Regions from separate parts of the Homo sapiens genome. Here regions 1, 2, 3, 4 and 5 are each linked to region 6. The links come from fine-mapping of genetic effects on gene expression. A gene starts in region 6. Each other region holds a variant in brackets. All regions are shown on one strand. Distances are from middle to middle.

Region 1 (4,087 bases), 20 kb before region 6:
CCACGGCGCCCGGCCTTCCCTCAGTTTCTTGAAACTCCCTTGGAGAACAGAAGATGAAATACAGAGTTGACATGTCATGCCCAGATTCCCTTTTCCCTAATTACAAGAAAGTGTTTTCCCTGTTCCGTGAGTAACTAACTGCCTTTCTCTAAGTGGCCTCACTCTGATGAGTAACTGAAAATGCACTTCTCTGTTTGAACTTTGTCAGAAGTGTCCGTGCCAAAAAGCTTTGAAATGCTCAAAAGTACATAAAATAGAAAGGGACCGCAAACATAAAACAGGAAACAAACAAGTTAATCAAGTGCTTAGCATAGTGCCCAGCACATATTAAGGACTTGGTAAATGGTATTTATTAACTCAACAGACATTTATGGATTTCCTACTGGAAGTCAGGCACTATGGGGACTTGGCAGTGACCAAAACATAGTTACTGCCCTCCCACAGCGTCCTGCCTGGTGGGCAAGACAGCCTTAAACACATGATTACACGAATGGTGGTTAGTTATAAGTGTTAAGTGTCAAGGTACTGGGGGGCTATCACATCAGGATAAGGGGACACTGATGAATTATAAGGTTACACTGGGGTCGGGCATGGTGGTTCACGCCTGGAATCCCAGCACTTTTGGAAGCCAAGGAGGGCAGATCACCTGAGGTCAGGAGTTTGAGACGAGCCTGGCCAACATGGTGATACCCCGTCTCTACTAAAAATACAAAATTAGCCGGGCATGGTGGTGCATGCCTGTAATCCCAGCTACTCGGGAGGCTGAGGCAGGAGAATCACTTGAACCTGAGAGGTGGAGGTTGCAGTGAGCTGAGATTGGGCCATTGCACTCCAGCCTAGGTGACAGAGCGACGCTCCGTCTCAAAAAAAAAAAACAAAAACACAGTTGGGGTACGGTGGCTCACACCTGTAATCCCAGCACTTTGGGAGGCCGAGGTGGGCAGATCACCTGAGGTCAGGAGTTCGACACCAGCCTGGCCAACATGGTGAAACCCCGTCTCTACTAAAAATACAAAAAAATTAGCTGGGCATGGTGGTGCACACCTGTAATCCCAGCTACTTGGGAGGCTGAGGCAGGAGAATCACTTGAACCCGGGAGGCAGAGGTTGCAGTGAGCCAAGATCTCGCCATTGCACTGCAGCCTGGGGGACAGAGTGAGGCTCTGTCTCAAAAAAAAGGGGATATATTGGGGAATTCTAAAAAGGAAAATAATTGTCATGTTAATAAATGGAGATTTTAGGGCCAGGCTGGGCAGAGGCAACTGCCAGTTGTCATGAGTGCATGCAGAGAAGATTCAGGGCTTCCTGGAAAAGGCTTCTACCTGGTATTTATTTAATACCCTGGGAATAAGTGCCTAGGCCCAAGGCCTAGCCCACCTAGAGGTCAAAATGAAGCATCGCTTGCCAGGGCAGACGGCAAAGCTAAGTGTAGCAAATCCAGGTCAGGAAGCCCAGAGGAGGCCAGAGGCTGGAAAGGCAGGGGCAAAGTCTCAAATGTGGGCACATGTTGAGCATGTCAAAG[A/G]GAAAGACACCAAGGGGACCTCAGTGAGGGGCTTGAGATCAGAGGATGTGGATGATGATCGGGAGGAGGCAGAGGTAGGGCAGTAGTGGTTGACTAACAAAGGGGCAGCAGGAGGGTGGTGACAGTCCAGAAGACTTAGAGATGATGGGGACTGAGATAGGTGGTAAGAGCGGGAGACTATGTTGGGGCTGTGGCAGCAAAGGTGACAAGGTGACAGGGTCGGGTGGGGACAGTCAAGGTGACAGGAGAGATGGGAATGAACTAGCAAGTGACAGGTTGGGTTGGAGGTGGTTGACAAAGGGTTGGTCCAGATAGCCACAGGCTTGGGCATGGGGCAGGGGCAGGGATGGTGGCAATGCTCAAGAAGGTAACACGATGATGGGAACTGGGTCAAGTGACAGCGTGGGTAAGAAAGGGGCAGTGGTTGTGATGCAGGGATGATGGTGAGGGTGACAAATGAGTGACAGGGTCAGAGAGGAGTGATGACCATCAAGGTGACCCAGGGGTGACAGGAAGTGTGGGTGGCAATGATGTCTGTGCCAGTAGCAAGTCAGAGACACCCATCTAGCCCCCCTCCCCTGGGCCTGTTTCAACAGCGGAACTGTTTCCTAGGCCGCAGGTCTCATGACTCAGTACCATGTATCAGCCATGCCGTGGATAAGATCTCTAGGTGGAGCCCCAGCCGTGGGGGCAGGCTAGGTGCCTGTGTCGGCTGTGCCCAGGCCCATCGAAGGACCCAGGCATGGAACCTTAATGTCATCTCTGCCTCCTCCCTCCTGGGTCCACATCCACTCCAATCTGGGGTTGGCCACAAACACTTAGCCTCCTTCTCCTTACAGACTACAAAAGTTCTAGCCAGAGCTTTGTCTATTCCACCAGGCTTCTTCCACGGCTGACCCCATTAGAAGTTTCTGGGCCTCTAATTCTTTCTCGTAACTATCCCCTGTGGGGAGAGAGAAAGGAAGGTGGACTTCAAGAGGGTTCTGAATAATCCCATCCATTCATCCCACAAATATTTATTAAACTCCTTGCAAGGTACTAGGGGCTGACTTGCACAACCAGACCTGTGTCCCTGTCTCCATGAAGCTCAGTCTGGAAGAACAATGGCAGCGAATGGCAGCCACCATTGGGACAGTGCTACTTACTTGTAACAGAGTGGGGCAAACTTTTTTTTTTTTTTTTTGAGACAGGATCTCACTCTGTCACCCAGGCTGGAGTACAGGGGTGTGATCATGGCTCACTGCAGCCTTGACCTCCTGGACTCAAGCGATCCTCCTGCCTCAGCCTCCTGAATAGCTGAGGCTACAGGTGTGTGCCACGACACCCGGCTATTATTTTTTATTTTCTGTAGAGACAGGGTCTCACTATGTTGCCCAGACTGGTGCAAACTGCTTTTTAAACCATGAAGAGACCAGGCGCGGTGGCTCACGCCTGTAATCCCAGCACTTTGGGAGGCCGAGGAGGGCGGATCACCCTAGGTCGGGAGTTCGAGACCAGCCTGACCAACGTGAAGAAACCCCATCTCTACTAAAAATACAAAATTAGCCGGGCGTGGTAGCGCATGCCTGTAATCCCAGCTACTCGGGAGGCTGAGGCAGGAGAATCGCTTGAACCCAGGAGGCAGAGGTTGCAGTGAGCCGAGATCATGCCATTGCACTCCAGCCTGGGCAACAAGAGTAAAACTCCATCTCAAAAAACAAAACAAACCAAACCAAAACAAAACACAACCCTGAAGAGAGTGGGTCTCATTAAAGGAAATCTTGGGGACTGTGCCAGTGACCCTTCGGCTAAGCTAAACACTGTATAAAAAGTAATTTAGAGTATAGTGAGCAATCAGGAGAGAGAAAGTAAGGAGGGGGGGATGGGAGGGTAGAGAAAACCAGCAGTGTGGCCAGAGGCAGGGGTACTAAGTGGGGTGAAGGGGCCAGGGAGAAATAGCCTCTGGTGGAGGAGCCAAAATGATTTCGAAGAATAGAGATGTTTAATATTCAATTTGAACGTGTTGTACAAGGTAAATTCCCCACCAGGCACGGAGGTTCACGCCTGTATTCCGAGCACTTTGGTAGGCCAAGGTGGGCAGATCATTTGAGGTTGGGAGTTTGAGACCAGCATGGGCAATATGGCGAAACCCTGTCTCTACTAAAAATACAAAAATTAGCCGGGCGTAGTGGCACGCGCCTGTAATCCCAGATACTTGGGAGGCTGAGGCAGGAGAATCTCTTGAACTCGGGAGGTGGAGGTTGCAGTGAGCCAAGATCATGCCCCTACATTCCAGCCTGGGCAACAGAGCAAAACTCCGTCTCAAAAAAAAAAACAAACAAAAACAAAACAAAACAAAACAAAAAACCACCAAAGTAAATTCCCTCTGTCTCCCCAAACTTTCCACACAGTTTGTTACTAACAAAGAAGTTTGTTACTTCCAGGGCTGGGCACGGTGGCTCATACCTGTAATCCCAGCACTTTGGGAGGCCGAGGCAGGCAGATCACGAGGAAAAGAAATCGAGACCATCTTGGCCAACATGGTGAAACCCTGTCTCTACTAAAAAATACAAAAATTAGCTGGGTG
Region 2 (4,087 bases), 57 kb before region 6:
TTACATTCTCCCCAAACCTCACCCAGCCTCCTCCTTGCAGCCAGAGTGATCTTCCTAACAAAAACCCCATCGCGTCTTCCCCAGACTCACTCACTGGCTCTCCTCCACTTCTAGGATAAAGTCCAAACTCAGTAGGCCACCATTGAAGACCCTGCATAATTTCATCCTTTCTGCCTGTTTCATATCTGCCCCAATACTCTTTGTATTCAGCAATAGTATTACTACTAAATAATAATAACCATTTATTGAGCACTGCCTACATGCCAGCGAGTTATACTGATCACCTCCTTTAACCCTTAACACCAATCTTATGACTTAAGCACTATTATTCTCCCCCACTTGACAGAGGGTAATCTGAAGCTTAGAGAACTTGAATGGCTTGTCCAAGGTCACACAGCCTGTACCTGGTGAGCCAGGATTAAATCCAGGCAGTTACCTGTGCCAGATGGCCTCAAACCAAACAACTGTGCTGCTCCATGCATGCCTTGCTTTCTTGTGCCACTGTTTTGTTTGTTTGTTTGATGTTTGAGACAGGGTTTTGCTCTATCACCCAGGCTGGAGTGCAGTGCCATGATCAGGGCTCATTGCAGCCTCCATCTCCTGGGCCCAAGTGATCCTCCCACCTCAGCCTCCCAAGTAGTTGGGACTATGGGCATGTGCCTCGGCACCCAGCCAATTTTTTTTTTTTTTTTTTTTTTGAGACAGAGTCTTGCTCTGTCGCCCAAGCTGGAGTGCAATGGCACGATCTCTACTCACTGCAACCTCCAACTCCCGGGTTCAAGTGATTCTCCTGCCTTAGCCTCCCGAGTAGTTGAGATAATAGGTGCACGCCACCATGCCCAACTATTTTTTTGTATTTTTAGTAGAGACAGGGTTTCACGATGTTGGCCAGACTGGTCTCAAACACCTGACCTCAGATGATCCGCCTGCCTTGGCCTCCCAAAGTCCTGGGATTACAGGCATGAGCCACTGCGCCCTGTCCCAGCTAATTTTTTCAATTTATTTTGTGTAGAGATGAGGTTTCACTATGTTGCCCGGGCTGGTCTCGAGCTCCTGGCCTTAAGCAGTCCTCTCACCTCAGCCTCCCAGAGTGCTGGGATTACAGGTGTGAGCCACCATGCCTGGCCAGAATATCCTAATAATTTTACATTGACTGCATCTTGAAATAGGATTTTGGATATATGGGTTAATTATTAAAATTAATTTCACCTGTTGCTTTTTACCTTTTTAATGTGGATACTAGAAAAATTTAAATTATACAGATGGCTTGTATTGTATTTCCCCTGGAGAACTCTGTTCTAGAGTTGATAAAAGAGAAAACCTGGAGAATTGTAGACATGAGGGCCGAAGTCAAAGCCGTCAGAGGAGAAGGCCCCAGGAGAGGGTACAGGGTAAGAAGGCAGACCAGGCCGGATGCGGTGGCTCATGCCTGTAATCCCAGCACTTTGGGAGGCCGAGGTGGATGGATCACTTTAGGTCAGGAGTTCAAGACCAGCATGACAAAACCCCGTCTCTACTAATAATACAAAAATTAGCCAGGTGTGGTGGCGCTTGCCTGTAATCCCAGCTACTCAGGAGGCTGAGACAGGAGAATTGCTTGAACCCAAGACGCGGAGCTTGCAGTGAGCCGAGATCACGCCACTACACTCCAGCCTGGGTGACAGAGCAAGACTCCGTCTCAAAAAAAAAAAAAAAAAAAGAAAAGAAAGAAAAAGAGTTGAAAGACACCAGTGTAGACTCCTCTTCGAGAACTCGCCTGAGGAGCGGGGGAGAGAGAACATGATCCCGCGAAGGGGCTGACAGGGTGAAGGGAGGGATGTTTCATTTTGTGTTGTTTTCAGTGGAGAAACTTCAGTATATTTATAGGCTGAGAGAGGGACAGGCTGAAGATAAAGGACAGAGA[A/T]AAAGGACAGAGTAAAGTACCTGAATAGGCTGGACAGCTGGATTGGTGCAGAAGTGGAGGGGTCCTCCAGGAAGGAGAGGACCCCGCCCCAGCCAAGGGGTGATATGTGGATACATGGGTGGTTAATGGGTCTGGTGGTGAGAGGGACAAGAGGGTGAGCTGAACACAGGAAGTGTTGATTATTTTACCTGTCAAGCAGCAGATCAAGCCATTTGCTGATTTAAAAAAAAAAAAAAGTCAGAGTACAGAGCAGCTTTGGGGAAGTCTGAGAAAATGTGAAATAGCCCAGATATGGTGGGGGAGAGGCAGCTGAGCAGGGCCCACTGGGTCCCTCAGAAGCCCCAGGACAGAAGCAGGGGAGCCCAGAGCTAGGCTGGCTTCAGATCCAGGATAAGATACAGCAGGAGAGGACAGGAACAGATGGGGGTGCAGGGGGGAGTGAGGCCAGGACAGGTTGACAGGCTGGCAGGGTCAAGAGGTAGAGGGACTGGAGCAGGCATGGAGGGTCTGAAAACAGAGGGGCCCCCATGGCCTTTCCCCCATTCCAATACCATGTGCTAAAAATACTGGATGAGCATAGGCTGGGCGCGGTGGCTCACGCCTGTAATCCCAGCACTTTGGGAGGCCGAGGCAGGCCGATCATGAGGTCAGGAGTTCGAGACCTGCCTGGCCGACATGGTGAAACCCCGTCTCTACTAAAGATACAAAAAATTAGCCAGGCGTGGTGGCACATGCCTGTAATCCCAGCTACTCAGGAGGCTGAGGCAGGAGAATCACTTGAACCTGGGAGGCAGAGTAGTGAACTGAGATCACACCACTGCACTCCAGCCTGGGCAACAGGGTGAGACTCGGTCTCAAAATAAATAAATAAAATAAAATACTGGGTGAGTGAATGAACCCCACATGATTCCCTGTGTCAGGGTTGCCAACTGGCAACTCATGCACGTAATTCATCCAGCGCACAGGTTTTGTTTAGATAACTTGGTTTTGAAGAACAGAAGTTTCCTTCTCTCTTGAAAAATGAGCAGCTCAGGCAACACTGGCCTGCATTCCACTCTCCATGGCAACAGTCAGCTGGAGTGGCGGCAGCTCTACAGCCTTGCACAGATTGGCACTCTGCAGCCAGCCAAAGTCCCCACCGCCCTGAGTTGCCGCTCTCTTGGCCCCCGTAGCATGTGATCTACAACCCTTGCCCCGTGTCTCACGTGTATGGCTGGTTTTCCAGGGCCCGGATGGCTCCAGCCCCTCCTCTCCCTGATCAGTGAATGTGGCCCAGCCCATCCAACTCTCCCCCACAGCCAGGAGGCCAGCTCCAAGGGCAACACCCCTGGAAGCTGCAACATGGATCAGTCCACTTCCCTCATCCTGGCTGCAATAAATGGGGCCAAGGTCACACTAGCTTTTTTGGCAAAACCTTCACCCTGGTGACTCACTGAGATTCCTGTATATATATATAAAAACAAAAACAAAAAGCCCTCACTTCTTGGCACAGCCTGGCAACTAAAAATAACAACAACACAATGTCCGATATAGGCTTACACCTCACAAAGTTCTTTTACAAGTGCTACTGTCTTCAATCCTCACAGCAAATCTGCACGGCAAGAATTTTTCTCCCACTCTATAAATGGGGAAACTGAGGCCGAGAGAGGCATCTTGAACTACCTGAAAGTGAGGACCTTACCCTGGCTGGGGGAGCATTAACAAGCCAGAGTCTTCAAAAGCTGGCAATATTTAAGCTAAGGGACAGAGCATAGAGGTTAACGGTCAAGACTGTGATACTGGGCCGGGCACGGTGACTCATGCCTGTAATCCCAGCACTTTGGGAGGCCGAGGTGGGAGGATCACTTGAAGTCAGGAGTTCAAGACCAGCCTTGACAACATGGTGAAACCTCGTCTTTCCTAAAAATACAAAAATTGGCTGGGCATGGTGGCATGCACCTGTAATTCCAGCTACTCCAGAGGCTGAGGCGCAAGAATCGCTTGAACCCGGGAGATGGAGGTTGCAGTGAGCTGAGATCGCGCCACTGTGACAAAGCAAGACTGTATCTCAAAAAAAAAAAAAAAGACTGTGATATTAGACTGCACTGGATTTAATCTTGACTTACAGTGTGACCTTGGGCAAAAGGCTTAGTCTCAAGGAGCCTCAGTTTTCCCATCTGTGAAACTGGGATAATAATAGTACCT
Region 3 (4,087 bases), 27 kb before region 6:
ACCATACAAGTGACCTCACCAAGGGACTGTTCTCCACCCTCTAGCCACTCCCCATCCCTACCGCAGAGCCAGGACCTAGCCTAGCCCAGTATCTGTCTCTGCAATTCCTGGAGACAGTCGCCAGGTAAGGGCAGCTGGCCTGCTGGAGCCACCTCACCCACCTCTGATCTTTGCCTAGGATCTGCTCCTGCCTGTCTCCTGGTTCTCCAGGGCACACACCCCACCCTGGGGCCGAGGCTCCACTATCCACCTGTCCAGACTTGCCTTCCATCCTGCGGGCCGACACGCCCAACCCAGCCAGTGCCCTGTGGTAGAATGTCTCACTCAGGTCAGAGAGTACAGCAGGAAGAGGGGGCTTGAGGGGGCACCTTCCACCCATCCCCATGGCTGACACCCCTTCCGCAACTCGGGAAGGTCCCTGAAGGACCTCAGGACCCAGTTCACCAAACTCCTCAAGCTTTATAGGTAGGTGGAGTAAAGCCCTGAGGGCCAGACCAAGGCTTCAGGGTGGATTAGTGGCTGGGACAAGACTAGATCCTAGGCTAGATCCTACGCAAGGGAAGGCCTCCCATCCCTACACAGGGAGACTTCTTCCCACAGACAGCCTCCAGGGAGGAGACTCAGAGGGCTCCCCTGAGAGAGTAGGGGTTGCTAGAGGAGTTACAGGGAGTGGGTCCCAGTCCAGGAGGGACAATCTTGCCCTGCAGGGTTTTGGGAGGTTGGATACTTCCCAGCTCAGTGCTGAGGGAAGGAAAACAGACCAGCTCACCCAGTAATCAGTGTTCCTTACAGGTGGCATACTTAAATGGGGGCGTGGGGGTGGGTGCTGTCCTCCCCAGGGGCCGGCAATAGGGGGCGCATCATTGGCAATGAACTTAAAAACACTTGATCTTAGCCAAAAGGCTAAGAAGCGATGCAATGAACTTAAAAACAATAAAACTGACTAAAAGTCAGTCTGCAGCCGGGCGCAGTGGCTCACGCCTGTAATCCCAGCACTTCGGGAGGCTGAGACGGGAGGACCACCAGACGGTGAAACCCCGTCTCTACTAAAAATACAAAAAAAATTAGCCGGGCATGGTGGCGGGCGCCTGTAGTCCCAGCTACTCAGGAGGCTGAGGCAGGAGAATGGCGTGAACCCGGGAGGCGGAGCTTGCAGTGAGCCGAGATCGCACCACTGCACTCCAGCCTGTGCGACAGAGCGAGACTCCGTCTCAAAAAAAAAAAAAAAAAGTCAGTCTGCTTCTTGTTGTCCCTATCAGCAGCAATGTTAAACAATGTCCGTGGTAAAATACACAGATGGGGTGAACCAACTGCCCCCTCCCCTTAGTACACCACAGTTCCTATCTATATATTCACCCCCAAATTCCTGCCAATCAAATCTACATGATTTCTTAGATCCTAAGACAATTAAGCCTTCTTTGGAGAATGTATGCGTCCTTTTAGGACATTTTTTTCTGAATGTCTACCGAGCATCTTAAGAAGTGTGAATGTGCCAGGCGCAGTGGCTCAGGACTTTGGAAGGCTGAGGTGCATGGATCACCTGAGGTCTGGCCAACATGGTGAAACCTCATCTGTACTAAAAATAGAAAAATTAGCCGGGCGTGGTGGCGGGCACCTGTAATCCCAGCTACTTGGGAGGCTGAGGCGAGACAATCGCCTGAACTCAGGAGGCAGAGGTTGCAGTGAGCCGAGATTGGACCATTGCACTCCAGCTTGGGCGACAAGAGCAAAACTCTGCCTCAAAAAAAAAAAAAAGAAGAAGAAGAAAAAATGTTAATCAGTTCCTACAAGAGTACTTCATTTATTCATTATTCATGTATTCAGCCGTGGGAGCTCTCCCAAGTGCTAGGTGGTAGATGCGCACTGGAGAACAAGTCCCAGTCCCAGACCTGGAGGACTTACAAGGCATGTAGAGAAGCTGGTGAGTAAACAAGAAGCTAC[A/G]ATGCAAGTATAGAGGTGATAAGCACACGGGTCTGTGGGAGTTGAGAGGACAGCGCTGAACCAAGCTTGGAGCTTGGGAATATCAGGGAAGCCTTCCTGGAGGAAGGGACATCCTCTTTAACAGCAGAAATGAGAAAGAGTTAGCCAGGCAAAAGGGTGAGGGACAGAAAGAATAAGTCAACTCATGCAAAGGCCCCGAGGGAGCCTGGGAAATGTGTGGCTGGAGCAGGATGGGAGCCCCTGACACTAGAGAGCTAAGCCCGGGCTGGACCATGAATGGTCTTGTCCTTGCTCGAGGGACTGATGGGGGTCACTGAAAGTCTGTAAACGGGAGTGGCAGGGAAAGATTAGTATGTTAGAAAGCTCTAAAGCATTGCTGGAGCTCAGAAGGCACGAATTTGGTGGGAAGAGTAGGAGTGGAGCAGAGAAACTGGTTAGGAAGCAGTTGCAGTAATAACGGCAGGAGTTGGTGGTAACTGGAACAAAGGGAGTCGCATCAGGATTGGAAAAAGGGGCTGGACTGGAGGATGGTGCCAGTGAATGATCGAGTTGGGGTGCAGGTGTGTGGGGTAGCCCCAGGGTTTCTGGTGGGGTGGTGCCCCTCTCTGATGGAAACAAAGGAGGAGGAGCAGGCTTAGTGCATAATCGGGTCTTATTTTCATATTTCTGATAAGATTTTCTCAAGTCTACAGCACTTCCTAAATATGTCATCACATGTGTGAGGTTTTTTGTTTTGTTTTGTTTTTTGTTTTTTGTTTTTGGTTTTTGGTTTTGTAGATCAAGGCGGCCCCCAAAACATTCTTTCTGTGTAAGGAGAGGTTACTCTGGAGAATTAAAGTAAAAGAGATGAGAGGTGCAGCAAAAAAGTCTGCTTAATTACTCCGCTGCACTTTCCCTATCCCTCTTTCATTCAACATCTACAAAGTCTGGTGCTTGGAAATAGAAAAGAATCCTGAGCCAGGCACAGTGGCTCACACCTGTAATTCCAGCACTGTGGGAGGCCAAGGCAGATGGATTGCTTGAGGCCAGGAGTTCGAGACCAGGCTGGCCAACATGGTGAAACCCTGTCTCTACTGAAAAATACAAAAATTAACCAGGTGTGGTGGCGCACACCTGCAATCCCAGCTACTCAGGAGGTTGAGGCATGAGAATTGCATGAACCCGGGAGGCGGAGGTTGCAGCGAGCCAAGATTGGGCCACTGCACTCTCCAGCTTGGGCAATAGAGCGAGAGACTGTCTAAGAATCCTGGCCTCATAAAACTTTCAATCTAGGTGTTGGCTTATGCCTTTAATCCCAGCACTGTGGGAGACCAAGGTAGGGGGATCGCTTGAAGCCATGAGTTCAAGACCGGCCTGGGCAACACAGCACAACCCCTATGTACAAAAAAATAAAAAATTGTCTGGACATGGTAGCATGGGCATGTAATCCTACCTACTTTCAAGGCTGAGGCAGGAGGCTGCAATGAGCCATGATCCAGCCACTGCACTCCAGCCTGAGTGACAAAGCAAGACTCTGTATATAAAAAAAAGAAAAAAAAGAATTTACAATCTCATAAATCAAAAGTAATATAGGATTATAAAATACTGACATGGCCCGGTTAGGTGGCTCATGCCTGTCACCCCAGCACTTTGGGAGGCCAAGGCAGGCAGATCACTTGAGGTCAGGAGTTTGAGACCAGCCTGGTCAACATGGTGAAACCCTGTCTTTACTAAAAATACAAAAATTAGCCAGGTGTGGTGGCACACACCTGTGATCCCAGCGACTTGGGAGGCTGAGGCAGGAGAATTGCTTGAGCCCAGGAAGGAGAGGTTGCATTAGCCGAGATTGTGCCACTGCACTCCAGCCTGGGTGACAGAGCAAGATCTGTCTAAAATAATAATAATAATAATGGTACTTTCACATAAAACATTTTTTTTTGAGATGGAGTTTCCCTCTTGTTGCCCAGGCTGGAGTGCAATGGTGCAATCTCTGCTCACTGCAAACTCCACCTCCCAGATTCAAGCAATTCTGCCTCAGCCTCCCAAGTAACTGGGATCACAGCCGCGTGCCACCACTCCCGGCCAATTTTTTGTATTTAGTAGAGATGGGGTTTCACCATGTTGGTCAGGCTGGCCTCAAACTCCTGACCTCAGGTGATCCACCTGC
Region 4 (4,087 bases), 35 kb before region 6:
GTACAGATTATTACATCACCCAGGTACTAAGCCCAGTACCCAATAGTTGTCTTTTCTGCTCCTCTCCCTCCTCCCGCCCTCAAGAAGACCCCCGTGTCTGCACTTTCCTTCTTTGTGTTCGTAAGTTCTTATCATTTAGCTCCCAATGCTTTCCATTCTTTTAGATATATGTGCCCTTGGCATTTTTGCCCTTTTGGGCCCCTTCTTCCAGCAAATAATAATAATAGTAATAATTAATTCTATTTTACAACTATTGGTATAAAGACAAATATATTAATTTTTTTTTTTTTTCCGAGACAGGGTTTCACTCCCGTCACCCAGACTGGAGTACAATGGTGCGATCTCAGCTCACTGCAACCTCTGCCTCCTGGGCTTAAGCGATTCTCCTGCCTTGGCCTCCCAAGTAGCTGGGATTACAGGTGCCTGCCACCACTCCTGGCTAATTTTTGTATTTTTTGTAAAGGCGGAGTTTCTCCATGTTGCCCAGGCTAGTCTCAAACTCCTGAGCTCAAGCAATCCACCCGCCTCGGCCTCCCAAATAAGTGGAATTATAGGTGTGAGCCACCACGCCGGCCCTGATGTATCAATATTAAAACATTTTCTTCAGCCTACAAGTTCTTCTTTTTCTTATTTGGATGCAAACTAAAACATTTTGTGGGCCCTTAGATTGAACATTCTCATGGGTCCTGTGCCTCCTGTGCGTCATGGAGAAGGCAGCCCTGCATGGCTCTCACATCCTCTTCCCCCACGCAAATGCTGCCACCTCCCCAGCCTCCATCTCCAGCCCGGAGCTCAAGAACAAGTGGTCCAGCCTCCTCTCTTGTTATCTCGTATGTGTAACAAGCACATTACCTTCACCTGCCCCAACCCAACCTCACCTCCCCACAGTCTGCCCCCTTCCCAAGGGCCTAGCCCAAGGAATGCTCCTCCCCACCACATCTCTGAAGCTTTCCCTCCAGGAGTCACTCAACTACTCCCTCTCTCGTGGCCCCCTCAATCAGCCCCAAATCTAATCTCCAAGAGCCTCTCCACGGGTCTCCCGGTCTGCATCCCCCTTGAAGTAGGAGGCGGGACTTGACTCCAGAGGTGGGGCTTGGACACTGGACCAGATTGAGGACTAGCTAAAACAGGGCTGGAAGCAGCTTTCTAATCAGACATGCGCCCCAATGTGCCATGTTAATTTATCATTGCCATCTCAACACCTGGGAGTTATCACCCCTTTCCATGGCAATGACCCAATGGCCCAAAAGTTACCACCCCTTCCCTAGGAATTTCTGCATAAATTGCCTCTTAATCTGCATACAATTAAAAGTGGGTATAAATATAACTGCAAAACTGCCCTGGGCTGCTGCTCTCCGCCTCTGTATAGCCCTGCTGTGCAGGGGCAGTCATGGAGCTGTAACACTGCCGCTTCAATAAAGCTGTTTTCTTCTACTTCTCTCTGCATTGCCCTTGAGAGGCAAAGCCGAGAACCCTCGCAGGCCAAGCCCCACTTTGGGGCTCACCTCTCCTGCATCACCCTCACTCATTCTCCATTTTACAGCCATTTTTTTCCCCTTTTTGAGACGGAGTCTCGCTCTGTTGCCCAGGCTGGAGTGCAATGGAGCGATCTCAGCTCACTGCATCCTCCACCTCCCAGGTTCAAGAGATTCTTGTGCCTCAGCCTCCCAAGTAGCTGGAATTACAGGCACCCACCACCAGGCCCGGCTAATTTTTGTATTTTTAGTAGAGATGGGGTTTCACCATGTTGGCCAGGCTGGTCTCAAACTGCCTATTTTATTTTATTTTTATTTTTCTGAAATATGTTAAATTCCAGCTACTCTGTCATTTCATTCCTACATTCTTCAGTGTTCCCTCTAAAATATAGGAACATTTTCTTAAATAATCAGTGCCATACCTGACAAAATATACAATTCCATAGAATGATCAAATACTTGGAATTGTTTCAAAGTGTCTTTTTGCATTGATTTGTTGGATTGTTTGCATCAGGATCCAAACAAGGTCACACATTACGTTGGGTTAAATGTTCTCTTAAACAAGAGGAATTCCCCTTTCTCCATCATTATTTTTTCATGTCATTGACTTGCTGAATAAATGTAGTCCTGTAAGAGTCCCACATTCTAGATTTGTCTGTGTTTTTTCTTTGTAGTGTCATTCAGCTTTTCCGTCATCCCCTGTATTTCTTTGAGTAAGTGGCTGGGCACAGTGGCCCACACCCCTAATTCCAGCACTGTGGGAGGCCAAGGCAAGTGGATCATTAGAGCCCAGGAGTTCAATGCCAGCCTGGGCAACATGGAGAATTCCAATCTCTA[C/T]AGAAAACACGAAAATTGCCAGGCGCAGTGGCTCACACCTGTAATCCCAGCACTTTGGGAGGCCGGGGCAGGCGGATCATGAGGTCAGGAGATCGAGACCATCCTGGCTAACATGGTGAAACCCCATCTCCACTAAAAATACAAAAAATTAGCTGGGCGTGGTGGTGGGCGCCTGTAGTCCCAGCTACTCAGGAGGCTGAGGCAGGAGAATGGCGTGAACCCGGGAGGCGGAGCTTGCAGTGAGCCAAGATCACACCACTGCACTCCAGCCTGGGCGACAGAGCGAGACTCCATCTCAAAGGAAAAAAATTAGCCAGGCATGGTGGCATGCACCTGTAGTCCCAGCTACTCAGGAGCCTGAGGCAGCAGGATCACTTGAACCTGGGAAGTCAAGGCTGCAGTGAGCCATGTCTGTGCCATTGAGCAAGTCCCTGTCTCAAAAAAAAAAGAAAAAAAAAAAGAGAAAGAAATAAAAAAAAAATATGAGAAGTCAGCTCTGGGCTGGGCGCAGTGGCTCACACCTGTAATCCCAGCACTTTAGGAAACCAAGGCAGGAGGATCGTCTGAGGTCAGGAGTTTGAGACCAGCCTGGCTAACATGATGAAACTCCGTCTCTATTAAAAATACAAAAATTAACTGGGCGTGGTGGTGCACGCCTGTAGTCCTAGCCACTGGGGAAGCTGAGGCAGGAGAATCACTTGAACCCAGGTGGCAGAGATTGCAGTGAGCGAAGATTGCACCACTGCACTCCAGCCTGGGCAACAGAACAAGACTCTGCCTCAAAAACAAAAAAAAGTGGCCAGGTGTGGTGGCTCACTCCTGTAATCCCAGCACTTTGGGAAGCTGAGGCGAGAGGATCACCTGAGGTCAGGAGTTCGAGACCAACCTGGCCAACACGGTGAAACCCCGTCTCTACTAAAAATACAAAAAAATTAGCCAGGTGGGGTGGTGGGTGCCTGAGTAGTCCCAGCTACTCAGGAGGCTGAGTCACAAGAATTGCTTGAACCTGGGAGGCAGAAGTTGCAGTGAGCCAAGATTGTGCCACTGCACTCCAGCCTGGGTGGCAGATCAAGACTCTGTCTCAAAAAAAAAAAAAAAAAAAAAAAAGAGCTCTAATGGTGTATGGTTTATTTATTTTTTATTAATTTTATTTATTTATTTATTTTGAGACAGCGTCTCACTCTGTCACCCAGGCTGGAGTGCAGTGGTGTGATCTCAGCTCACTGCAAGCTCTGCCTCCCGGGTTCACGCCACTCTCCTGCCTCAGCCTCCTGAGTAGCTGGGACTACAGGCACCCACCGCCATGCCTGGCTAATTTTTTTGTATTTTTAGTAGAGACAGGGTTTCACCGTGTTAGCCAGGATGGTCTCGATCTCCTGACCTCATGATCCGCCCGTCTTGGCCTCCCAAAGTGCTGGGATTACAGGCGTGAGCCAACACACCCTGCCTGGCTTTGTTTATTTTTTTGAGACAGTCTCGCTCTGTTGCCCAGGCTGCAATGCAGTGGCGTGAATGTTGCTCACTGCAGCCTTGACTTCCCGGGTTCAAGTGATTCTCTCAGCTGGGACGACAGGCGCATGCCACCATGCCACGCTAATTTTTGTATTTTTTGTAGAGATGGGGTCTCGCCATGTACCCAGGCTGGTCTCGAACTCCTGGGCTCAAGCAACCCACCCACCTCGGCCATCCAAAGTGCTGGGACTACAGGCACGAGCCACCGCGCCCGGTCTGGTGTGATTTTATTTAGGTTCAGTCTTGCATGTGGGCTGGAGCAG
Region 5 (4,087 bases), 64 kb after region 6:
CCGTCTCTATGAAAAAAAAAATTAAAAATTAGCCGGATGCAGTGGCACGCGCCTGTAGTCCTAGCTACTCAGGAGGCTGAGGCAGGAGAATCGCTTGAACCTGGGAGGCAGAGGTTGCAGTGAGCCAAGACTGCGCCACTGTACTCCAGCCTGGGCAACAGAGTGAGACTCCGTCTCAAAAAAAAAAAAAGAAAGAAAGAAAAAGATGTTTTTTGTCAGTTATTTACAGATTCTAGCAAACACACACAGAATACTGATCAGTTTTAGATTTCCAAGTTTTCGAGTTAATAGAAACGCCAAATGGTTTTAAATTAGGAAAAGCTAATCCAACACAGAATTCAAATAAATATTACTCTTGTACCTTCCTTTTGGCTTAACATTTAGCTTTCTTCTTAAAGCTCTTCGGTCAGTGAATAAAGCTGTGTGACAAAATTCATCTCCTTTTCTCATTAGCATCACTTATGTAATTTGGCGGGGTGCAGTGGCTCCCGCCTGTAATCCCAGCACTCTGAGAGGCTGAGGTGGGTGGATCACCTGTGGTCAGGAGTTTGAGACCAGCCTGGCCAACATGGTGAAACCCCCTCTCTGCTAAAAATACAAAATTAGCCAGGCATAGTGGCATACACCTGTAGTCCCAGCTACCTGGGAGGCTGAAGCAGGAGAATCACTTGAACCTAGGAGGCAGAGGCTGCAGTGAGATGAGATTGTGCCACTGCACTCCAGCCTAGGCAATAAGAGCAAAACTCCATCTAAAAAAAAAAAGATATTCAGTTTTTCCCTATCCAGATTCTTCATCAGAATAATTTTTAAAGTTACACAGTACAGGAATACATTATTTTTTTAATATAGATAGGGTCTTGCTATGTTGTCCAGGCTAGACTCGAACTCTTGGGCTCATGTGATCCTCCCGCTTTGGCCTCCCAAAGTGCTGGGATTACAGGCGTGAGCCACCATGCCACATTCTTTTTTATAAAAAAATACAAAGAAGAGCATGTCATTTTAATACTCTGTTAAACAGTAAATGTGATACTATTCTTTATCAGCCTACTCAATAACTACGAATGAAACCTATATACATTATCCACCCACTGAACGAAAAAAGAGACATCCATAAAATTTAAATAGGTGTTGCTCAACATGTCTGTCACACTTGAGCTACTTTACCTTGTATGAAAGACCAACTCAAAAATCCTCAAAGACAACCTTTATTTTATTTGATTAATTGGTCATGGGTAAAATGTATAAGTAACTTATTAAAAAGGGGCAATATACTTTATAAGAAAAATTACCACAGTAATTCCCAAGAAGAATGTGACAATAAGCTCTTTGACGATAATATATGTGCATCATCTGGTTTCTGTTCCAAAGCCTTAGTCAGCTCCTACAAAAACAAACATGTTGAGTGTCAGTAAAAGTTTTTTAAAAGCCATCAAATAAATTCTAATTAAAACATCATTTTTAAACAAATAACTTATGATCAGAAACTACTTGGAGGAAAGATAACAGGGATGTAATCTTGGAGTTTTTCCTCGTAAGAGGATCTCCCCGGTTTCTCGCGGTCCTGCTAAAACGCTGTCAACCTAACGCTCCACCAGAGAGGCCCGTTGGCTTCTCGGGAGGCGACCGAGGGAGCTCAGGAGGCGGGGAGGCTTTTACAAGAAGCGAAAGGACGGCCTCAGGGGTGGCCGGGAACAGCCTGGAATCAGCTGGAGGACATCAGCAGGACTGAGGAAAGGGCCACCACCAGCGTGAGGAAAGGGGGGAGAGGGCAGAACGCGGCGAATGGCCGCGCTCGAGGGCTGGCGGGGTCCCAGCGAGCAGCGGCTGGGAAACAATGGCGCGAGCGTGACGTGGGCCGGAGGCGCCGCCGCGGCGCGGAGGAAGGGGCTGCCGTGGGACTGTAGAGTCTGTAGAGTCTTTTGGAATTTATGTGATTACAATCTTGCAGTCTGTGAATAGAGATGGTTTAACTTTCCTGTAATCTTTATACCTTTTAGTTTTGTTGCTGGCTAGTATGTCCACTATTGAATAGAAATAGTGATAATGGACTTCCTTGTCTTGGTTGTAAAATCAAGAGGAAAGCATTCAATATCAAGTGCTTTTTCTACCTTTATTGAAATGTTCATATGTATTTTTAATAATAATATGTTACTGTTATATAATAATAATTTTAAAATAATATTTTAATAATAATGTTACAATGTGACCAATTACATTGGTTAATTTTCAAATGTTATCTAAATGGCCGGTTGTCCTTCCGGATCCCCATTGATTCCGATTGGGATGACACTATAGGAGAGGCAGAACCAGTGAAGGAAACATAACGTTTATTCAGGAGTTACATACAGGGGTGGTCCAGTGGTGGTGGGCTGGCCTGGAGAAACGCTACCGTTTGTA[TA/T]AAAAAAAAAAAGCATGTAGTCCATATAGCATATCGCATTTTCACTTAGAACCCTCCTTCTAGCAGTCTCCATTTAACCCAAAATAAAGGGCCTTGATCACCTGTACAGGCTGTGTTCCAAGGGATGGGGCAGGGGTATGGCTGTCCTTCATAGGTAAGTAGTGAATCTCAGTGTTGGCTACTCCTGGATTCCTTAGCCTGGGACTCCAAACACACTTAGAATAGGGTTATTCTCAGGTATGCTCCATTTATGGCTCAGCCATACACCAAGGTGTATACACCAACCCCTGCCATGCACCAATATGCATATAAATATGAATAGCCTCTGAAAGGGCAAATTCCTAGATTGACCTATAGGCCCACATGAAAAGTTCTATATTAATAGCTATGTCATGGCTGAGCACAGTGGCTCATGCCTGTAATCTCAACACTTTGGGAGGTCGAGGCGGGTGGATCCCTTGAGGCCAGGAGTTGGAGACCAGCCTGGGCAACATGACAAAACCCCATCTCTACTAAAAATACAAAAATTACCTGGGCTTGGTGGTGCACACCTATAATCCCAGCTACTAAGGAGGCCAAGGCACAGGAAACACTTGAACCTGGGAGGCAGAGGTTGCAGTGAGCGAGATGGCACCACTGCACTCCAGCCTGGGCAACAGAGTCAGACTCTGTCTCAAAAAAAAAAAAAAAATAGCTGTATCGTGGACATTGAAATTATAATGAGATAATAAAACTACCACCAGAATGACTTAAATTAAAAGGATTTCCAATACCAAGCATTGACAAGGATAGGAGCATTTTTTAGAGAGAATGACCAAGGAGTTGGCTACAGTCAGGTGCTGCAGAATCAGATCTGTGGACCTTAATGTGCATCTGGTGAAATAAATAACTATAATGGTGAAGAACAAAGCAATTGCCCAGGAATCCTACTGTGGTCTGAGATAAGAAGATCATTCCTATTGCCACATCCCTGGAGGCCATTTTTCTTTTTTCAATGACTGATCATCCTATTCAGAGTGAGAGGATCTGGCGTGAAAACAAGAGGCCTGTTGTACTATGGCAACTGAAAGCCACTCTTTTCCATGTACCATTGTTTTCAAGCCATTAATTTCCTATTAAACTTCATTTTCCTCTTCCTGAGAGTTTCGCTATAAAAATATATGTGTGTATAGATATATATTCCCAGCATAAGAGTGCTGTAACAGTGTTTTACATAGAACTTTTACAACAATTCTTTGAAGTGCTTTATTGTTCCCATTTGACAGGTGAGGTGATTTCGGGCACAGGAAGGCTGAATGACATTTCCAAAGTCACCTCCTTGTAAGAGGCAGTGTCAGAAGCTGACAATGGACTTGACCACTATGCTGTCATAGCAACAGAGAGAAATAATTTTTAAGACAATCCATGTATTTAAAAAATATTTTTGTATCTCTTGTGAGTTTTTAAAAGAATCGTTTTGAATTTTTTCTTTTTGATTGTGATTGAAAACACCAATGCTTGTTTTATAGGCAAATATCATCTATAGTGATCAGAGATCCAAGTAAAATATAGATGTGCTGATCTTAGCATAATCTTAGAAGAATAATTATATACAACCAAATGGAATTTCTTAAATGCACAAATGGAATTAAAAGAGGAGGTTCTTTTCCATCTTAACCAAGAAGGAGGGCATAATGGAATGACCATGTG
Region 6 (4,087 bases):
AATACTTCTGCAGCAGCTGTAAAGCATTGTTGCCCTGAGCCCCCTGAGTGTCCCTCAAAGCTGCTCCAATGCCTTGCCCTGGTCTCCTCTCCCACCTGCCCATAACTAAAGGTTTTATGCCCACAGAGCAGGCAGTTTCCAGGACCTGTGCTACAGACCTTGTTTATTCTGACGGGTCAGTGCCTGTTGTACTGGATAGTTAAGCATTTTGATTATCATCCCAGAAAGACCAAGAGATAACGGAGAAGCCAGCGGCAATGACATGGGGCAAAGGTGTGCAGGCAGGTGAGAGCAAAGATCAGAGATTGCAGGTGTATGTGTGAGGAGGGGTGGTGGGAGACAGGCACGTGAGGGTCTGAGGCGCCCTGCCCTGCTTGGGAGGCCCTGGCAGCAGCTCCTTGCCTGCCAAAGGCTCAGACCTGGCTCCATCCCAGGACGCCTTGGAGGGAGGAGCTGTCAGAGCCAGTTCCACCACCTTGGGGCTAATCTTCCTCTTCCTCCCCCAACCCCTGCCCTGAGTTCTCGGCCAGCACCGCCCCCTGCCCTCACACCAGGTATCTCAGAGAAAGGGGCTTTCCTCACCCCAAAGCCAACCCTGATTCTGCCACTGCAGGCCTAGGCTCCCAACACGCAGGTAGGCAGGCAGGCACTCACCCACTACAAAGGGATCCCCAGGCCTGCCCCTCCAGTTCATGCAGTCCTTGAAGTTCTGCTTCTCACTGATATCCAATACCTCACATCCATCTGAGTCTGCAACCCTTCCCCTAAAATTTAACACTCTTCTTTTGTGGTCTGGGATAAGCCTGATGATCCTGGGGCTCAGTGGGAGGACTAACGGCTCCTTTGTGAGAGAGTGAACTGAGACTTGGGAGGGAATGAGGAGGCCCCTCTAGGAAAATAGAAGACATCATCCTCCCCTAGCCTGGCTGCTCTAAAACAGGTGGCTGGACTCAGGACTCCGATAGGAGTGAGGGCTCCGAGGCAGGAGAGTGATAAAGGCCACCTCCTATTGCCTTCTTGGCACAGGAGAGAGGGGCTAGGGCTGGCTGATAGGACGACTAATCTTATGGGAGGCTGTGGATAAAATGCCCCCTGTGGCTTCCCCACTTCCTATTCTTGGAAGCCAGAAGTGGGTTTCAGCCCTCCTCTGCCCATAGATCCTGATCCTCAACCATTTGGGGATCCCTACTTGCCCTTAGTTAGGCTTCCTAGTCCACAGTGGGCCAGCTGGTCTGTACTACCCAGGGCTGGGGCAGGAACGGAGTAACCCACTCACTGCAATGTAGCAACTGAACACAGAGGAAAACAGGTGTAACCACATGAGCGGCTGAAAAATCAGAGTAACTGGGACAGGAAATAGAACATAACTGGTGGGTCTGCCAGACCTAAGAAGTGCAAACAGAGTCACTCAGAACAAAACCAGGGTGAAACTGGTGTGACCAAGGAGTAACTAGGACTGAGGAGTAACTCAGGCAGGGAAATGCTCACTCAGAGAACCCACAGAGTAACCAAGAGGCCAGGGAGTAACCAGAATGCTTGTCGTCTTCTGCACAGACGCTGACAGCATCTGTCTGGATAACAGACAGGGCCTGGGAGTCGCTGAGCACCAGGTGAGCAACTTTAGACACGCGTCCTCTGTGCCTGGGCCTAGCTTCCTCCCACCCTTCTACCGTCAGAATCTGCCTCCCTTCCCACTTCGCTGTTCGCAGCCCATGTGGCCTGCACCCTCTGCCCCCACTCGTGCAAACTGTCCTCACTCACTTCAACCTTTGGACTTTTTGAGGCTTAATTATTCATTAGAGGCCAGACACCCAGGACCCAAATAACCTAATAATGGCTCATTTGCCTCCGCCCCCTCCCCTACATCTGGGGGCTGGGATTCTGGGAATCTGGAGGGGTGTGGGAGGCAGGGGAAGTGGCTGGCTGTCCCAGACTGCAAGCGTGACCGCTGCCCCCAGCCTGTTGGCTGAGTCACTTGTGGGAGGGTAAACGATCGGCACTATCACTGGGGAGTAACAGCTGTCATTCTGGCAAGAGTCGGAGCTGTCAGAGAGGGGGTTAGAACCGTGGGGAAGAGGACTTTGGAAGTCAGCTTGATCCTCCGCGGTTAAGCGTGGGGGTCACAGCTGGGGAGGTGGGTCCAGGCTACCTTGGAAAACACAGCCCCTTCGGGGAAGTGAGAGTTTGGGGAGTGCAAGGGCTGGAGAGAGAAGGGCTTCCCCGGCTCCCTCCACTCACCACCAGGATGAGGGTCCCCAGGCACTCGGCCAGCGCCTGTCGGAGCAGCCGGTAGCGGATGTGGAGCATCTCCCCGCAGCGGGACACCAGCTCCTTCTGTCGACCCATGGCGGGGCAGGCGGCGGCGCTGTCGGGCGGGCAGGGGTGGCGGGAGGCGGTGGCGCAGCGAGCAGCGGCCTCCAGCGCTGGTGGCTCCCTTTATAGGAGCGCTGGAGACACGGGCCCCGCCCGCCCTGCAGCCCCGCCCTGCAGTCCCGGAGCGCCGAGGAGTGCGCGCCCCCTCGCCCCCGCCCCACCTCGGCTGGGAGGCTGGTGCGGACGCCGGGTGGAGGGAGCTGCGGGCATGGAGTGTGAGGAGCTTTGAGGGACGGGTGGCCTTCGGAGGGCGCTTAAGGGAGGGGACGTCAAGGGGGCTGAGAGGCTTAGGCAGATCTGAGAGCCAATGGTGGGATTATAGGCAGGGTTCAGGGCCATGGCTGGAGAGGATGCAGCTGTCATAGAGACCACCTGCGCCCTGTGATCACCCCACTTCCTTGCGGGCAGGAGGAGACCTGTCAGAAAGAAACTGGCCGCATCTCTCCAGGATGACTGGACCCAACAGATCCTCAGTTCGAGGCAGGAGGAGGAGGCTGCGAGCCCCAAGTGAGAAGCAACACTGTCTCTTCTGTCAGGACAGATAAGGCACCGACCCTTCAAGGGGACAGCTAGTGTCAGAGGGGCAGCAGTCCAGACTCAGGTGGGCACACAGACACACGTGCTGAGTTCCAACCAGACTTCATGGGCCCTTCTCCCTGTGCTATGAGCACGTCGTGTGTCGCATGTCCTGGCCAGCTATGTCCACAGCTGTGTCTACACATGGCGGATGTCCTGTGTGCCTAATTGTACGGCTGGGCATTCCTCGTGGCTGTGCACATGCCTGTTGAACATGGCTAGGTGACCTAGCTTGTCACACGTGTACCTGCGTGCATTGCTCACATGGCTCCAGAGGCTGAGCTGCAGTTGCCCCGACATGCCACATGCCACATGTTTGCCAGCAGGCTGAGTCCCAGCTGTTTTTAACCCTCTCCTCTCCCATCTGACTTACCCCCAGCCAAGGAAGAGTCTGTCTCTTTTTTTTTTTTAGACGGAGTCTCTCTCTGTCGCCTAGGTGGAGTGCAATGGCGTGATCTCGGCTCCCTGCAACCTCCACCTCCCAGGTTCAAGTGATTCTCCTGCTTCAGCCTCCCGATTAGCTGGGATTACAGGTGCACACCACCATGCCCAGCTAATTTTTGTTTTTTTAGTGGAGATGGGGATTCACCATGTTGACCAGGCTGATTTCGAACTCCTGACCACAAGTTATCCACCCGCCTCAGCCTCCCAAAGTGCTGGGATTACAGGCGTGAGCCACTGAGCCCAGCAAGTCTGCCTCTTTAAGCAAACTTAATTATGGGGGAGTCAGCCCTATCTGAGGGGGATCATGGGACAACCTTGCCCTCTCTCTCTTTTTAAAGAGTAGGGTCTTGCTCCATCACCCAGGCTGTGGTGCAATCACAGCTCACTGTAGCCTCGAACTCCTGGGCCCAAGTGATCCTCCCACCTCAGCCTCCAGAATGGATGGGACTATAGGGACTATGTGCCACCATGACACTCAGCTAATTTTTAAAAATCTGTTGTAAAAATGAGGTCTTGCTATGTTGCCCAGGTTAGTCTCAAACTCCTGGCTTTAAACGATCCTCCCACCTCGGCCTCCCGAAGTGCAACCTTGCCCTCTATGCTGCTTTTAATAACAAGGAAACATCTGGTGGCCTGGGAGCAAACAACATGCCCTTAGGCTGAGCTTCTATGGCAGCATTGCCAGAGGAGATCA

Evidence for each region. PIP is the estimated chance that this variant, and not a neighbour inherited with it, causes the effect. A credible set is the group of variants that fine-mapping cannot tell apart.
Region 1: its variant is the best candidate, but not a certain one, in a credible set for the expression of AQP3 in whole blood (INTERVAL, PIP 0.66).
Region 2: its variant is the best candidate, but not a certain one, in a credible set for the expression of AQP3 in anterior cingulate cortex (GTEx, PIP 0.62).
Region 3: its variant is the best candidate, but not a certain one, in a credible set for the expression of AQP3 in lung (TOPMed, PIP 0.63).
Region 4: its variant is the best candidate, but not a certain one, in a credible set for the expression of AQP3 in whole blood (TOPMed, PIP 0.59).
Region 5: its variant is the best candidate, but not a certain one, in a credible set for the expression of AQP3 in prefrontal cortex (ROSMAP, PIP 0.87).

Annotation. Positions count from the first base shown.
Region 1 is chr9:33,425,056-33,429,142 of GRCh38, forward strand. No RefSeq gene overlaps it. Among named protein-coding and RNA genes, the nearest start is that of AQP3, 20 kb to the right of the region's middle. The variant A/G (reference allele first, on the strand shown) is at 1,522.
Region 2 is chr9:33,388,348-33,392,434 of GRCh38, forward strand. The region is part of intron 3 of AQP7 (aquaporin 7); the gene reads right to left. Among named protein-coding and RNA genes, the nearest start is that of AQP7, 12 kb to the right of the region's middle. RefSeq lists enhancers at 1,943-2,730, 2,731-3,517, 3,044-3,338. The variant A/T (reference allele first, on the strand shown) is at 1,904.
Region 3 is chr9:33,418,069-33,422,155 of GRCh38, forward strand. No RefSeq gene overlaps it. Among named protein-coding and RNA genes, the nearest start is that of AQP7, 18 kb to the left of the region's middle. The variant A/G (reference allele first, on the strand shown) is at 1,942.
Region 4 is chr9:33,409,940-33,414,026 of GRCh38, forward strand. LOC105376020 (a long non-coding RNA gene) reads left to right here. Exons shown (of 3, transcript NR_188543.1): 3 at 301-611. Among named protein-coding and RNA genes, the nearest start is that of AQP7, 9.4 kb to the left of the region's middle. The variant C/T (reference allele first, on the strand shown) is at 2,313.
Region 5 is chr9:33,509,331-33,513,417 of GRCh38, forward strand. It overlaps the pseudogene SUGT1P1 and the pseudogene VN1R47P. Among named protein-coding and RNA genes, the nearest start is that of ANKRD18B, 13 kb to the right of the region's middle. The variant TA/T (reference allele first, on the strand shown) is at 2,398.
Region 6 is chr9:33,445,185-33,449,271 of GRCh38, forward strand. AQP3 (aquaporin 3 (Gill blood group)) reads right to left here and starts at 2,409. Exons shown (of 6, transcript NM_004925.5): 1 at 2,239-2,409. The coding sequence starts at 2,346. RefSeq lists a silencer at 2,395-2,584.